2 separate regions of the Homo sapiens genome follow, and region 1 is linked to region 2. The links come from fine-mapping of genetic effects on gene expression. A gene starts in region 2. The other region holds a variant in brackets. All regions are shown on one strand. Distances are between the middles of the regions.

Region 1 (2,910 bases), 110 kb after region 2:
CTGCATGCAACCTCTGCCTCCCAGGTTCAAGTGATTCTCCTGCCTTAGCCTCCCAAGTAGCTGGGATTATGGGTGCATGCCACCACACCCGGCTAATTTTGTGTTTTTAGTAGAGATGGAGATTCGCCATGTTGGTCAGGCTGGTCTCGAACTCCTGACCTCCAGTGATCCACCTGACTCAGCCTCCCAAAGTGCTGGGATTACAGGCGTGAACCATTGCACTTGGCCTTTTTATTTTTATTTTTCTTTCTTTCTTGTTTTTTTTTTTTTTTGAGATAGAGTCTCGCTCTGTCACCCAGGCTGGAGTGCAATAGTGCGATTTCGGCTCACTGTAACCTCTGCCTCCCAGGTTCAAGTGATTCTCCTGCCTTAGCCTCCCAAGTAGCCGGGATTACAGGCGTCCGCCGCCATGCCCAGCTAATTTTTTGTATTTTTAATAGGGATGGCGTTATGCCATGATGGCCAGGCTGGTCTCAGAGTCCTGACCTCAGGTGATCTGCCTGCCTTGGCCTTCCAAAGTGCTGGAATCACAAGCGTGAGACACCGCGTCCAGCCCCAAACCATTTGAAAGTTAGCTGCACACAGTAATACCTTTCAATTCTAAATAATTCTAAATAATTCCCTAATATTCTAAATACTTCCCTAATATTGCTTAATATCCAGTCCATATTTAATTTTCCCCAGTTGTCCTATACATCTTTTTTTTTTTTTTTTTTTTTTTTTTGAGACGAAGTCTCACTTTGTTGCCCAAGCTGGAGTGCAGTGGCGAGATCTCGGCTGACTGCAACCTTCACCTCTCGGGTTCAAGCGGTTCTCCTGCCTCAGCCTCCCGAGTAGCTGGGACTACAGACATGTGCCACCATGCCTGGCAAATTTTTGTATGTTTAGTAGAGACAGGGTTTCACTATGTTGACCAGGCTGGTCTTGAACTCCTGACCTTGTGATCCGCCCCCCTCGGTCTCCCAAAGTGCTGGGATTACAGGCATGAGCCACTGCGCCCGGCTCCCATACATCTTTTATAACTTTTTTAAAACACAAGACTAAGTCCAGGCTCATTTATTCCATACGGTTGCACCTCTTTAGTCTGTTAAACTAAAACAGTGTGTTCATTTTATTTTTATTAATTAATTATTTGTTTTTTCAGACGGAGCCTCCCTTTTGTCATCCAGGTTGGAGTGCAGTGGCACGATATGGCTCAATGCAACCTCTGCCTCCTGGGCTCAAGCGATTCTCTTGCCTCAGCCTCCCAAACAGCTGGGACTATAGGCACCCACCACCATGCCCGGCTAATTTTTGTATTTTTAGTAGAGAGAGGGTTTCGCCATGTTGGCCAGGTTGGTCTCGAACTCCTGACCTCAGGAGATCCACCTGCCTTGGCCTCCCAAAGTGCTGGGATTATAGGCAG[T/C]GTGTTCATTTTAAATATGCCGACCCCCAGCACTTAAAGACGCCTGTAATCCCAGCATTTTAGGAGGCTAAGGCAGGAGAATCACTTGAGTTCAGGAGTTTGAGATCAGCCTGGACAGCATAGTGAGACCCCCTTCAATCTCTACAAAAATAAAAATAAAAATATTAGGCAGGCATGGTGGCAGTGTTTTGTTTTGTTTTGTTTTGTTTTGTTTTTGAGACAAGGTTTCACTCTGTCACCCAGGCTTGAGTGCAGCAATGCAATCTCAGCTCTCTGTAGCCTTGGCCTCCCAGACTCAGATGATCCTCCCATCTCAGCCTCCTGGCAGATCACTTGAGACTGGGAGTTCAAGACCAGCCTGGGCAACATAGCAACACCACCTCTTGATTATAACATTATTACTTTTTGAAAAATGCCACCAGTTCATGTATTTAGACAACTTTATCACTATTGCTCAGGGGAAAAGCCTGTCTTGGTCTAGGAGAATTCCACAGAACATACTTTTATTTGGTAAAGTGGGAAATTCTAGGATCTGGTAGTGCATTAATCTAGTTACCAAAATGATACCACTCATACCACGCTTGGATTAGTAACTTTTCAAATAATTTGGAAACAAACAAAAAAACCGTTTAACATTAAAATTGAAAATAATTCCAACTTTGTTTCACTTGAAGAAGGCGGGTCCCAATCCTGTTGTGTTGCCAGTGTCCACGTTCCAGCTTTTTGCTAATCAACAAAGCCATCCTTTCTGTCTCACAAACTGTTCCCTGGACGTTTCACAATCTTTGTTGCACGCATTAGGGCTTTGTGGGTGATGATAAAAAGGGGATGTTTTGTTTCGTTTTATCATTAGGACCTTTAAAAGAGTAGCAAGTTATTCTGCTGGACTTCCCAAAATGTAGCTGGGAAGAACAATATAGCCGATCAAAAGCTGAAAATTACTTTCAAGGACTCAGGAAGGGAACGTGTGGTACGTGCTGCATGGTATCTGTTAAAATAGCCACTGTGCTGAAATCCCTTTGTGGGGAAAGGTAGAGATTTTTACAAATTCAAGACAAAATGTTACTTCTCTGGGTATGACCACAGTAACAAGGACACAGAAAAATAGGTCAGAACCAGAGGAAAGATGGGGTTATCTGTCCTGAGAATCAAAGCCTCCTATGGATCCTCACTCTGAGAGTGCCTGGGAATAAGAAGCTGAGTTTCATTGACAGCAGCAGGAAGTGCAGAGTGAGAAAAGCAGGAAGAAAGTTCTAGTAGCCACAGAAGTTAGTTGCTTTGACCACGGGCATGATACCAGAATTTCAGAAGTGACAGAAAAAGCAGGCAGACAGATGGCAGAGATGTTTGCTGGAACCCTCAAGCCCTAAGGAAGAGTCTTGATTATGTTATCATCACTTCTGAACACTTTAGTGACCATAGCTTTCAGTCTGTGAGGAAAAGCCCTGCTGGCCTTTGAGACTGGTGTGAGGGACTGTCCTGCTCTGGGAAATGTGGGAGGGCTA
Region 2 (2,910 bases):
CAAGCACCTGGAAGAAGTGAGAGAATGAGGCACGTGGATGTGGGCCAGCAGCATTCCAGGCAAAGGGAACCACAGCAAATGCAAAACCCCTGAGGCTGGATTGTGCCCGTTTCACTCAAACAGCTAGAAAGAGCGCTAGTATGGTGGCAGTGAGTCAGGGGAAGAAGAGGAAGAGATGAGGTCAGAGAAGTGATGAGCCTGTTCTATGCCAAGGCGAGGACTTTTATCTTTGTCAAATATTTCCACTCCCATCATGGCCCGGGAAATCTCACTAATGTAAACCTTACTGAAAATCCTAACTGCTGTGATCAAGGCTGCCATAAAGGGAAGCCCGGAAGAGGCGGGGAGGCTGCCTTGGAACAGGGTAGTGTAAGGATGTGCCAGAAGGCCTGCTGGAGGTTGCAGCCCTTTGAGCTGGACTTGGGGATAGTGTGGTTTTCCAGGCAGAAGGAAGTGAAGGATTAGGTCGGCCTGGTAGTACTTGGCACACAACATGCGCCCAATAAATAAAATGGAAATAAAACCGCGGAGTGTTCTACTTGTGTTGACTGACATCAAAACAAAACAAAAAACCCTCAGAGTGAGGGGAGGCACGGGAGGGGCTGTGCCGGGCAAGAGAGGTGGCAGGAAAATCCAACGCACGGCGCCTATGCAAATACTCGTGTGAGGCAGAAAAGAGGCTCCGCCCCGCTCGAAGTTCCAAGCATGCGCAGTAGCGGCTCCTGCGCCTCTAAGGATCCGCCTCTTTCCTTCTTTCTCAGCCTGGGTTCCACCCCGGGAGGCCCGCTGTATGAGATGGAGGGCGGGCTAAAGGCGGGACGAGACTCGATTGAGCGCAATTATGACCAATCACCTTGCGGAATATTCGGCCTATAGCGAAGGAGGAGCTCAGAACAAAAAGGAGACCCCACCCCCGCCGACGGTGAAAACCTATGAAACCTGGGCGGAGGCGTGCGGAGTCGGGTAGAGAGCGAAATCACGCCTCTTCAGTCAGCCACGCCCTTTATTCTTGCTCGGCCTCGCCACAGAGAGCAAATCAGATTGGCTGGGCGACAACCTCAAAGGGCGGGGCTGCACACGTTCACTACGGGAATGAGGTAGCGGTGGAGGGGGCAGTTGGGCGGGGATAGGCCGTCCTAGCTAAGGTGGTAAAGGCCAATAACTCTTCAGGCTGCCTCTCCTCGAAAAGTCATCTTCTCGCGAACCTTTAAAATGCCTTCCTCCCCAAGCACCTCAAGGGACTAGAACTGAGTGCTTCATTTGTCTTTTTTCCTCCTTGCAAAAGTCCCGTTTGCCACCATGGGGATGTACCAAGTGAGACCGAGTAGGGGGAACGAGTGGTGATTGACGCGCCAGGTTACTGGCCACTGCTCACCTAGGCGCTAGCAAACTTCTGCCAAGATCGGAACTGAGTACTAAACAGCCTCCACAGTTCTCCCTGGTGCCGTCTCCGGCTTGGCGCCGCATCCTCCTCTGGGCTCGCGATGGCCGCGTCCCCTCCCGCTGCGGACGGGTCCTTTGGTACATGCAGTCCGAGGTGAGTCCCCTCCTTTCCACTTCACCCTTCCGAGCGCCTGCGTGCGCATGCGCGGAGCGCGGCGCGCGCGGCGGTTGGGCCGTTGGCTGTTCGGCCCTGGGATCCGCCGCCACTCCGCGATCAGACCGCTCTGTGCCGCGAGCCGCCGTGAGCACTCGGATTCAAGCCGGCGCCAACGAGTCCGGGGGCATCGCCCGCAGCGGCCAAGCTCATGGCCGGCTGAGCGGGACGCCGCCTCCGCCTCAGCCACCGCCGCCGCCGCCGCCTCCTCCTCCTCAGCCGGCGGCGGCCCGGGCCCAGCAACCATGGCTGAAGACTACTGGGACGGGCGCCTGCGGCGAACAGGAGGAGAAGGAGGTCGCGCGGCCTCATCCCGGGCCGCCGCCCCAGGCGCCGCCGCGCCGGCCCCGCGGCTCTGAGGTTGCTCGCGCGCCCCCGCCGGTGAGCGCGTCCCCGAGGCGTGGAGGCTGCCCCTCCTCCTTCAGAACCCACCTCGGGCGGTGCCCAGGGGTCTGGGCTGCGGGGCTGGCAGGTGCCCCCACCCCCGGCGAATTTCCCAGAATGCACCGGGGCGGGGGGTCATTTGGGGCCTCCCTGACCTTGGCCCCGCCCTGGGCCTGTCCTGGGAGCTGGGGTTGGGTAGTGCTGTGGGTGCTAATGGGGACCTGGGGGAGTCAAAGGACCAAAGGGTGTGGAAATGGGTGACAATGGGGTGAAAGACTTGGGGGGGTTGCTGATGGGGGTCGGAGCATGTGGCAGTAAGCCTCACGCCAATAAGTCGTGTAAGGTTCAAGGCCCCGTGTGTGCTTGTGGAAGGAGGGCGGGGTGCGGAGCGGGTGAGGGACCCGAGGGTGTATAACGGGGGGTAGGGTGTCGAGGAAGTTCTAAGACATGCTCATAGGGATTATGTCCGCAGAGAGGCCCGGTGTGTGTTCATGGGGGACAGGGTGGCACAGGTACCAGAACGTGTGTTGGTGGGGTCAGGGCTCTGAGGCCTGGTGCGTGGCGATGAGGCCCTGGATGGTGTTAATACTGCGTGTCTGTCCGTGGGGCCTGCAGTGTGTGAGAATGCAGTGTGTGCTTGTGGAGGGCAGGTAGCTGAAGGACTCGAGTGTGGTGTGTGCGCCAGTGGGGGTCATGGCTGTAGAGGGTGTATGCCTGTGGCCTCGAAGGTCTAGGTAGTTTGGGACCCAGTATATGCTAATGAGGGCAGAGTGGAGGAAGGACCTGAGGGTATCTAACGGAGGAAGGACTGTGGAATACCTGAGCCTGGCCTAAAGGAGATGAGAATTGCGTGTCTGTCTGGGCCCAGGAAGGAGTGGTGGGGAAGTGTCTTAGCACTGTCAGAGGCTTAGTGGACGAAGGGTAAAGGT

Which allele goes with the higher level. Positions count from the first base shown, and alleles are read on the strand shown. Sizes are in standard deviations (SD) of each study's normalised expression.
For the expression in tibial nerve of the gene that starts at base 1,554 in region 2, C is the low allele of the variant in region 1 and T is the other (small effect, 0.18 SD a copy in GTEx).

The links.
Region 1: its variant is fine-mapped to the expression of CDK16 in tibial nerve (GTEx, PIP above 0.99).

What each region holds. Positions count from the first base shown.
Region 1 is chrX:47,324,952-47,327,861 of GRCh38, forward strand. No RefSeq gene overlaps it. Among named protein-coding and RNA genes, the nearest start is that of ZNF157, 44 kb to the right of the region's middle. The variant T/C (reference allele first, on the strand shown) is at 1,406.
Region 2 is chrX:47,217,128-47,220,037 of GRCh38, forward strand. CDK16 (cyclin dependent kinase 16) reads left to right here and starts at 1,554. Exons shown (of 16, transcript NM_006201.5): 1 at 1,554-1,978. It overlaps LOC105373194 (a long non-coding RNA gene), which reads right to left and starts at 1,523. Exons shown (of 3, transcript XR_949047.4): 1 at 1,376-1,523; 2 at 1-7. RefSeq lists silencers at 888-997, 1,698-1,857, 1,878-1,987, 1,998-2,067 and enhancers at 1,188-1,307, 1,428-1,497, 1,641-2,280.